2 separate regions of the Homo sapiens genome follow, and region 2 is linked to region 1. Evidence: fine-mapped expression QTL. A gene starts in region 1. The other region holds a variant in brackets. All regions are shown on one strand. Distances are between the middles of the regions. Region 1 holds the start of KCNK13 (potassium two pore domain channel subfamily K member 13). Region 2 overlaps KCNK13 (potassium two pore domain channel subfamily K member 13).

The links. PIP is the estimated chance that this variant, and not a neighbour inherited with it, causes the effect. A credible set is the group of variants that fine-mapping cannot tell apart.
Region 2: its variant is the best candidate, but not a certain one, in a credible set for the expression of KCNK13 in whole blood (INTERVAL, PIP 0.79).

What each region holds. Positions count from the first base shown.
Region 1 is chr14:90,059,761-90,065,115 of GRCh38, reverse strand. KCNK13 (potassium two pore domain channel subfamily K member 13) reads right to left here and starts at 3,122. Exons shown (of 2, transcript NM_022054.4): 1 at 2,577-3,122. The coding sequence starts at 2,910. LOC124903406 reads right to left here. Exons shown (of 3, transcript XM_047432048.1): 2 at 4,205-4,714; 3 at 3,383-3,754. The coding sequence ends at 3,490. RefSeq lists enhancers at 3,180-3,679, 3,680-4,181 and a silencer at 4,430-4,819.
Region 2 is chr14:90,099,684-90,105,054 of GRCh38, reverse strand. The region is part of intron 1 of KCNK13 (potassium two pore domain channel subfamily K member 13); the gene reads right to left. Among named protein-coding and RNA genes, the nearest start is that of KCNK13, 40 kb to the right of the region's middle. The variant G/A (reference allele first, on the strand shown) is at 3,150.

The sequences.
Region 1 (5,355 bases):
AGGAAAAAGGAGACCAGAAGAAAATGGACCAAAACATGAACAGTGGTTAATTTGGATGATATTACTGCATATAACTTGATTTTTTTCTTCTTTATACTTTATTTTACAAAAAACCTGAACCTTCAGCTTTTTCATCTATAACGGGGGAGTGTTATGCCTACCTCATGGAGTTGTGTTGGCTGAAATGAAGTGTGAATGTCACACAGCAATGAGCTGCATTGCACATTCACATAATAATCATACAGTATGTGCCTAATACGGGCCTGATAAAGGTTAGCCAGTGCTGTTATTACAACAATTAGTGAAACAATTTAAAAGGAAATGTTACAAATGAGAAATAAAAATCAGCCCACACTGACATCATGTTTTTTACCTTTTAACACGCACGCACTTACAAGAGCTCATTGTCCCTCACAAGAACCCTGTGACAGGGGCAGGCTTACGCAGACGGAGGGAGCAGGGGGCAGGACTAATATTCACCAAATAGCTGATGTGCCAGATACCAAGGTGGGCACTCTGTAGATGCCTCAGATGAGAAAAGGATGGGGCTCGGAATAGTTAAGAGGCTTGCCCAAGATACAGAGGCAGGATGAAAAGCTCCCACTCCAGACTCTTTGTCCAGGTTTCTTTCCACTCCTCCATGCCACATTGTCATATTCGTATCCCCAAAGCCCATGTTCCTATATGGCCACCTACCCATGCCACTCTCAGTTCCTGCTACATGGATGCACCTGTCCACACACACACTCTGCTCCTTCCTGCCTCTGTGCCCACTGGGAGCACCAAGAGATGGTTTTTCATGGTGGTGGGAAAGATTCAGCCATCAAATCTCCCATCAAAACCACCCTAAGTTACCATTCAATCTAAAAAAATCCTGTACTTGCTATGCAAACACAGTAGAGTCAAGGTCACTTCCAAAGTGACACCTCCTAATCAGTTTGTTCATCCCAAGTCTTGCCTATGTGGAGATTCTGGAACTGTCTTCTGGGACGTGGGAGGTGATGTGAGGAGGGGCTTGTGGAACACGGCTAAGAGTCCAGCAGATAGTGTGGGCTCAGGGGGAGAACCATGGGGGTGTTATTCCTCCTTCACCAATCTTGGGCCCATTCTGGTCTGCTGCAAGGTTTCCTGCCTGATACCCAGTTATGGTGGTGCCATCATGGCCTGCTGATGGGCCGCACCATCTGGGATGGGATGGGGGCTGGGAGCCAGGCACTTCAGATACAGCCGGTGTGTCCCTAATCATACTGGTCCTCTGCCTCGCCTCCTGTGCATCAGCTGAAGCCCTGGATTCCTGGACTAGCCCTGGGAAGTCTTTCATGATGAATCTGACCTGAAGCCAATCTCTTTTGTCTTTTGTGCTGCTTCTCCTGGCAGAATGTCTATGTAGCACAGCCATGTGTGGGAGCCTCAAGGAGGCTCAACTTGTCGCCCCACCTCACCAGCGAGCTCTTCTAGAGTGCACAGGGGCAGTAGCTACAGAGCGCTCAGCACATGCACCCTGGGCTGTTTGCAACTGCCAGCCTTTTTTGCAGCTTGGAGGCCACTTCCTCTCCGTCTAACTCTTCCAACCTCCCTCCCCTGCTCCAGGTCTCTTTTTGCCCCCCTCAGAATTTATTTCTACAGCATCTTCCCTAACCCCCATTAATCACTTGATTATTCTTCAAGGATGAACAATCTTTAGGGGTGTGGCGCAGACTCCCCCAAATCATTTTCCTTCTGCTGGGAAATAAACACAGCTGATTGTAGCTGTGCTACATCTTTGCTAAAAAATTCTCAATGGCTCCCAGGTGCCTCTAGGTAAATTCCAGCTCCTCAGTCTGTCAGTGAAGGTCCTACCCCCGCCTCCATCCCATTAGCCAGCAGACCTTCCTAGTCTTCCTTCCACCACTCCAACCAGCTCATGGGGCCCCTGAGTGCGATTCTCTCCTACTCTAGAGTGCAACCGCGCTTTCAGTTCCCAAACCCAAGTTATGCCTAACACGAATTGATTCAGCCCAAAGGTCACTTCCCTGGTTCTTCCTGGTGGAAAATTTTCCATCTTTTGAACCGTCATTGGCACTTTTGCTTCCTCACTTTCAGTCTGCTGTTCTGATTTTTTCTCGGTAAGTGTGAAGTCGAGGGCAGAATCTTTTAAAATCTGCACTTCCCCTCTGACTGACTCAGTAAATGTTTAGTTTCCTGTCCCTATCTGTAAAAGCCTTCTTCCCCATGAACTCAAGCCGTGTCTCCTTCATTAGACTGAAAATCTCCCAGAGCAGAGCGTCTCCAATTTAAGGATCATTCCAATCCTTTGGGGACTTTGTTAACATGCAGATTCTGACTCGGCAGGTCTGCAGAGGGGACTGAGACTGCATTTCTAACAAGCTGCCAGGTGACGCTGAAGCTGCCGGTGCCTGGACCACATTAGAGCAGCGGGGAGGCAATACCACCTGTTGATCAGGCGACAGCTCATGTCAGTGGAGTCTGGCTGGGCGCCCAGATGGATGAATGAAAGGATGAGAGGGTCGGTCCTGCCCCCCGGAGGAAGTGGAGGCCGCCCGGAGGTTGTCAGCGAGTCCGGCCAGCACACTTACCTATGGTGGAAACGACGGTGCCCACGAAGTAGAAGGCGCCGGTGAAGTCCCAGCGCGGGCGGACGTTGTCCACGCGGATGCCGGCCCGAGTGGCCTCCTCGTAGTGGCGGAGGAAGCCGCGCAGCTCGTCGCGGCTCAGGTTGTGGCCGCGGCTGAAGTTGGCCAGGCGCTCCTCCCAGCGCTGCTTGGCCTGGCGCTCGTGCGCCAGCTCCAGCGCGGAGAAGACGGCGGCGCCGCCCAGCAGGTAGAGCACGATGAGCGCGGCCAGCAGCAGAAAGCGCGCGTTGTCCTCGTTCAGGTGGCCCGGGCCCCAGCTGAAACCCCGGCCAGCCATGGCCGGGCCCCCGGGGGCAGCCCCCAGGCCCACGGCACCGGGCGTCGGCGGAGTCTCGCCCACACCCCCGGGAAATAAGGGCCCCGGCGCTCAGCCAGCTCCCGGGCGCCCCACCGCCGGCTCGCCCATGACCGCCGGGCTCTCCCGCAGGCCGCGAGGCTCCCCCGGCCGCCGCCTCGGTAGCTCCTGTGGCGCCAGCTCCCCACGTCCTCCTTGACTCCTAGTTTCAAATCCGCTTTGTCGCCGCCGTTCCCCTCCACTCCCCCTGCTCTCCTCGGAGTTCTCCTTAACGCTGAAGGTCCCGGGGAACGGGCGCAGAGTTCACGTCTGCTTGGCGCTGGGATGCGGGCGCAGTTTCCACCCCGGCTCCCTGTCCGGCTCAGATAGGGGAGGGGGCGTGGCGCGTCTTCAGGGCAAGCTCGAGCCAACTCGAGTTTCCCGCAAAGAGACGGTCGCGGGGCGGGGCGGGGCGGGGCGGGGCGGCGGGGGGGGGGCGCGGTCCGGAGGTCTGCGGGTAAGCAGAGCGCCGGGGTCCTGGGTCCTGGTTCCTTTGACTATCGCTTCGCAGGCCGCCGACGGCTAGGACACGGGTGTCAGTCTGCTGGCTTTGTAGGTGCCTCCCCAGGTAGATCGACGATGGTGCCTCCTAGTTGTGGTCGTGGTGTCGCGCTGAGCCTGTGGCCTCCCGAGTCTCCGAATCGGCTGCCGGGGCTTAGGGATGGAGGGGGTCCAGGGCGGGCGCACGGAGAGAGGGGCTGTGCTGAGCGGCGTCCGAGGGCTGCGGCGTCCGAGGGCTCCGACCTCCGGCCGGGCCCCAACGCTGCGCATCCGTTGGGCGGACGGGCTGGAGAGAGGAGACCAGAAAGGGAGGTTGGAACAGGGAGCAAAGGAAGTTAGGGGCTTCTCCCCCGGGCAGCCTCCCTCGCCTTGACCATGCCAGAGCGCCCTTGGTCTCTGGATCCTGCGCGGGGGCGTCCTCTGCGCCTACTAGTAGGCTCCGCCCGGACCAAGCGCGCACCGCGAGCCAGCCCCGCTTCCGGAGAGGAGGCCAAACACTGGGGGCTGGAAGGGCTCCGCGGCCAGGAGACCTTGACCTTGGAGCGTTCCATCTCTTCCCCCCGGGCTTGGCTGCCTAGTGCGTTCCAGAGTTTTGCCTGGACGCGGGGTCCGCGCAGAAGGCATCCCCCACCTCATGCAGAACAGTAGCAAGGCTCTCCAGCAAACCGCCGGGGCCCCCTCCCCGAGACCCCGCCTTGTAGCGGGCGCTGGCGCCGCTGCCGCGCTCAGATCTCACCTTCCGGGGAGCGCCCTCTCCGCGCCGCTCCGTCGGGACTGTTCCCGGGCCTCCTGGCAGCCGCGGCCCTGCCCTGCCAGCCGGCGCGCGGAGCACAGGTCCGCACCGCGCTCTGCCTTCTCAGGCGGGCGCGCTCCGACGCTGCAACAGGTAGAGCCGTGCGGCTGCCAGCTGCGGCGACTCCACCCTGTCGCCCGCCTCCTTGCGCGCGGGCCCGCCTCCTGCGCTGGTCTCCGCGGGTAGACGCTCGGCGTTCGAAGGGCCGACCCGGGGCTGCGGTGCTCCCACCAGGGCGCGCAGATCTGGGTAGTGGATGCAGAACCGGCTGGTGGGACGCTCAGCCGGTCCGCGTGGGCCCTCCGGGGCCGGGAGAGGGCGCTCTGCCCCCTCCAGACACATCCCGCCCCCGCCCGCGCACACAGCCCCGCGCGGCCCTCCGGAATCACCCGCCCGGGCGTGTGGGAGCGAATCTGTACGCGGAGAGGAATGGATACGTGGGCATCTTCCCACCTTCCGAGAGAGCGGTTTCAGGCGCAGAGCCCCACACACCGCCCTTACGCACCAGGAGCAGAGACAGAAGGGCTAGGAGCCCTGTTGAGTAAAACCGTGTGATTTCGAATAAAGAAACACAGCTCTGGCGAGTGCATTTTCATCAGAAACCCTGGTGCTGTTAGCAGTCCTCTCGGCTCTGTTACTCACTCCCCAATGCCCCTCTTTCATCTAGCCTTCTGAGGGGCAAGAGCTTTAGGGGCATCGCGAGAATGGGTGCATGTGTATACACCCAGGGTGAGTACTGCAATTACCTTTTAAATCCATTTTATTATGAAAAATTTCAAACATTCTAAAAAGTTGAATTTTACAGTGAACACCCGTATACCCACCACCTAGATTCTACAATTAACATGTTACTATACTTGATTTATTAGATATCTACCCGTCCCTCTGTCCATCCATCAACCCATCTTGTTTGGATGCATTTCAGAGTAAGTTGCAGAGCTTGGTACACTTCCGCCCTCATCCCCAGTACTTCTGCCTGCATATCACTACGTAGGGTTCAATATTTACTTGCAGAATTTTTTTCCTTTTCGGATAAAATTTACATACAATGAAATGCACAAATCTTAAGTGTATCATTAGGTGAGTTCTGACAA
Region 2 (5,371 bases), 40 kb before region 1:
ACTTTGGGAGGTTGAGGCGTGAAGATCACTGGAGGTCAGGAGTTTGAGACCAGCCTGGCCAACATGGTGAAACCCCATCTCTACTGAAAAACAAAAAATTAGCCAGGCATGGTGGTGCATGCCTGTAATCCCAGCTACTCGGGATGCTGAGGCAGGAGGATTGCTTGAACCTGGGAGGTAGAGGTTGCAGTGAGCCAAGATCGTGCCACTGCACTCCAGCCTGGGTGACAGTGTGAGACTCTCTCAAAAAAAAAAAAAAAAAAGAAAAGAAAAGAAAGTAGCTGATCCCCAAGTTCAAGACAGTGACACCTCATATGGAAAGGGACCCCCGAGACTCTTCCACCTTCCTTGCCCAACCTGGGTAGGATGGCGTCTCCCTTGGGCTTAATCTGACCATCCCAGGAGGATATGTGGCCCAGGAAAGAAACAGAATGCACATCACCTTTGTGAGACAATTCTGGCAGGATTCATCAAGTGATCACACAAAGCCTTCAAAGACATAAAAAAGATACTATTATCAAGCAAATCCCAAGAGTCCCCAAAGATAGGAATGTATGTGTGACAGGGACAAGGTGTCTTATTGCCTTCTGGGTGCTGCTGTGCCAAGAGAGAAAATGGTCTCCAGACAATGTGTTCTCAGTGAGGTTTCCAGAAACTCATCAAAGAATGGCCTATATGATCATAGATTTCAAAGATGTTACTGTTTTAGGAGGGGAAAAGGGGTCTGGAGAGAAGGCCCAGAAACCACGCAGTTCCTGACACCCAACAAGAATGCAGGGAGGGGCCAAAAGGCATTCACAGGAGGAGGAGGCACTCAGGGACATGCCAGGCTTTTATTCCAAGGTGTCCTTGAGGAAGAACAAGATTAGGAGGCTCGGCTGAGAAGAGAAAAATTCATGTCAAAGGAAAATTGAGTAGAGGAGCGAGATGAGTGAGTTTTCAGAAAAGGGTAAGATCAGGAGAGAAAAAGAGACAAGAGAAGTTGACTCCTGCCCAACAGGAATGTGAAGAGGAAAGACAGGGTCTTCAGGAAGCCTAGAGACTGATCTTATACATCTGGGTATGGCCCATGTCTCACTGAGCTGCTGAGAATGGAAGCTGAAAGGGCAAAGTCTTTAGAGGTAGGAGATACACTTAGAGATCTCTCTGGTCCAGGAGAGAGAGAGAAACAACAACAACAAAAAACTGTCTGGGCCTGGTGCAGTGACTCACGCCTGTAATCCCAGCACTTTGGGAGGCCAAGGCAGGCAGATCACCTAAGGTCCCGGGTTTGAGACCAGCCTGGTTAACATGGTGAAACCCCGTCTCTACTAAAAATACAAAAATTAGCCGGGGAAGGTAGTGGGAGCCTATAATCCCAGCTACTCGGGAGGCTGAGGCAGGAGAATCGCTTGAACTCGGGAGGTGGAGGTTGCAGTGAGCTAAGATCACGCCATTGCATTACAGCTGACAAGAGCGAAACTCCGTCCCCCAAGAAAAGAAAACCTGTCTGTCTCCCTGGGGTGGACAGGATGCCCTAGTTTTATGTGTGTTTGAATCTCCAAAAATACCTGCATTATTTTTCATGGGAAAAGGTCCTAGATAAAATAACTCAGATTGCCCTTAAAATCCCACAGATGCTGGCGAGGCTGCAGAGAAACGGGAACACTTGTACACTATTGGTGGGAATGTAAGTAATTTTGGCCACTGTGGAAAGCAGTTTGGAGATTTCTCAAAGAACTTAGAGTTACCGTTTGATCCAGAAATCCTATTCCTAGGTATATATCAAAGGAAAACAGATCATTTTTCAAAAGAGATAAATGCACTGGTATGTTCCTCACCTTGCTAGTCACAATAACAAAGACATAGAATCAACCTAGGTGCCCATCAACAGTGGATTGGATTAAGACAATGTGGTATTATACATATACAACATGGAATATTATGCAGCCTTAAAAAAGGACAAAATTATGTCCTTTGCAGCAATGTGGATGGAGCTGGCAGTCATAATCCTAAGTGTATAACACAGGAACAGAAAGCCAAATACTGCATGTTCTCACTTATAAGTGGGAGCTAAACATTGAGCGTCCACAGACATAAACATGGGAATAACAGATACTGCAGACTACTAGAGCAGGGATGGAGGGAGGCATGGGTTGAAAAACTACCTACTGGGTATAATGCTTATTACCTGAGTACAATACACCCATGTAACAAACCTGCACATGTACCTCCTGTATCTAAAATAAAAGTTGGAGGAAAAAAATCCCAGAATGTTAACAGAACTAAAATTCCCCCAAATCTAATGTCTAATATCTCAGATGAAAGCTTGGCAACTCAACTGGAAGACAGCAACCCACAGGGAGACAGAAAGTCAGTGTTAACATCTGAGACAGCACAGCCATACTGACTGAGAAGCTCTGCGGAAAAGCACTTCCCAAAGGCTATGAGGAATAATGGGAGGAATTTCATAGGGGGTCATGGGAGAGACTCTACTCTCCGTGTCATTGACTCCCAATAACCAGGAAGGCAACAGGAGAGAAGACAACATCCTGAAGGTGGCTGCATAGGGTAGGGATTGAGATGATGGGTGCTAGAGTCCAATCATCTGGGATCAAATCCTGCCTTTGCCACCCAGCATTGCAGCACAGGCAAGATTCTTACTTGATTCTTCTAAGCTTCAATTTTACATCAATTAATGAAGATACTATAGTTGATGGGAGAGTTATGAACTGAATCTGCAGCCAGTGAGCTTTCTGTATGCTGGCTGGTGTTGTTACCAGCTCTACATCACAGCTGTACATTCTGCCTTAAAGGGAATTCCTGGAGCCCGTATAGATCTGAAGGAGTCCATTTCAATGGGGGGATTTCTTTTTAAAAATTTTTTATTTCTGGCTGGGCACGTTGGCTCATGCCCATAATCCCAGCACTTTGGGAGGCCAAGGTAGGTGGATCACCTGAGGTCGGGAGCTCGAGACCAGCCTGGCCAACATGGAGAAATCCCATCTCTACTAAAAATATAAAATTAGCCGGGTGTGGTAGCACATGCCTGTAATCCCAGCTACTTGGGAGGCTGAGGCAGGAGAATCGCTTGAACCTGGGAGGCAGAGGTTGCAGTGAGCCAAGTTCGCGCCATTGCACTCCAACCTGGGCAACGAGAGCAAAACTCC[G/A]TTTAAAAAAAAAAGAAAATATTTCCATAGGTTTTCGGGGGAACAGGTGGTATTTGGTTACATGAGGAAGTTCTTTAGCGGTGACTTGTGAGGTTTTTTTTTTTTTTTTTTTTTTGGAGACGGAGTCTCACTCTGTTGCCCAGGCTGGAGTGCAGTGGTACGATCTTAGCTCATTGCAACCTCCACCTCCTGGGTTCAAGCAGTTCTCCTGCCTCAGCCTCCCGAGTAGCTGGGATTACAGGAGCACGCCACCACACCTAGCTAATTTTTTTGTATTTTAGTAGAGATGGGGTTTCACCATGTTGCGCAGGGTGGTTTCAAACTCCTGAGCTCAGGCAATCCATCTGCCTGGGCCTACCAAAGTGCTGGGATTATACCACCACACCCGGCCAACTGGTGAGATTTTGGTGCACCCATCACCAGAGCAGCATACCCTGAACCCAATTTGTAGTCTTGTATCCCTCTCCTGCGTTGCACCCCATGGGAGAATTTCTGAATGTGATGCCCCTGCCCCCTCGTCTAAGTATTGGTTTTGCCATACGAGGACAACACTCTGGTCCGGGACAAGATATGAGTGGAGACGTGCTGGGACTTCAGATCAAGATTTCAGAGAAATCAAATCTCCTGCCCATTTGGTGCCAGAAGCGATTTCAGAGAGAGACTGAACAACAAGGGCAACAGTGAGTATTTTGTGCTCACTGTGAAGCAGACATGGTTCCAAACACCCTGCCTACGTCACCTGGTCTACTCCTCAGAACAACTCTGAGGTGTGATTATTATCAGCCCATGTTACAGACTGAGAAACTGAACAGGGGATTGAAGTACCTCGAATGACATAATTCCATCATATACTGCAACCTCCTTAGTTGCAAAGCACGTGGAAGCATCTGCTTGACTCAAATATCTCGTGCTGGCCAGGCACGGTGGCTCACACCTGTAACTCCAGCACTTTGGGAGGCTGAGGTGGGAGGATTGCTTGAGCCCTAGAGTTCAAGACCAGCCTGGGCAACATAGTGAAACTCTGTCTCTACAAATAAATAAAACAATTGGCCAGGCATGGTGGGCACACACCTGTGGTCCCAGCTGCTGGAGAGGCTGAGGTGGGAGGATCACCTGAGCCCAAGAGTTGGAGGCTGCAGTAAGATGTGATCATACCGCTGCACTCCAGCCTGCGCGACAAAGCAAGGCCCCGTCCCAAGAAAAACCAACCAACCTAGTGCTGAGATGCAAATGCAATTTTAAAAGTTGCAGGTCTTCAGACTATTTTTCGAAGTCATTCCTCTGTTTCACATGGACAAATCAAAGTTATAAAAATAGCCACTACTAATCTGATGAAATTACTGCTTTCCTTTGTTCAATCCACTGCTTCACACTTTGCGGCCTCCCTAACATCCTTGGGACTGATTAGGCCTTCCTCTTCTATTAGGTAGGCAATGTTCTCTCCAGCAAACAGAAGTAGGCCTTATATCCCCGAGGTCACCAGTACCAGCCAAAAAGTAGCTTGTTGAACGTAATTTCATGCAGAATCAGCTTCCAGTTTAGATGTCATTAGGGCCAGCATTGCTGAGGTTTGAGACTTGGCCAGTGATAAATAGGTCACCAAAATGCAGCCACGGCACCTATTATAGAGTTTCTTGGGTGGAAACATGGACTCACGTGTTTACATCAAGGTTCTTAAATGAAGATATTTTTAGTTTCATTGAGTTATTTTTTACTCTGGCCAAACCCTAATTATCCAAGTGTAGATTATCTATGCTATTAACTCCAAAGTGGGATCGACTCCAAAAAACTTTATTCTGGCCCCTCGGTACTTCCTAACACAGAACATACAAATTAATTTAATATTGGCTTGCGATGGGAAGGGCAGGAGCAAGCTGAGCCTTAGGTAATGTGCAAACAGAACAGCAGCTTCAGAAGAGTCCAGAGCTGCGTGGTTAGTTGGGTTCTTAGTCTCCATCAGGGAAGGAGATGTGAGTTTTGTGTGTATGTCAAAACCAAATAAGCACAAATTTGGGACAGTCTGCCCTGCTTTTTACCTCCCCTGGAAGAAAAAATTATGTTGGTTTGGTATGAGAAAGGATGTGGCTTTGGGACCCTCCCCCTTGAGCAGAGGTCCCAGATCCTCGTGAAGAATTCTGTAAACACCTCACCCACCTATTGTCTGTCTGTTTATCTGCTGTGTGGTCAGGTTGTCACGGCTGTTGGCTTGCTGCTTCAATTAC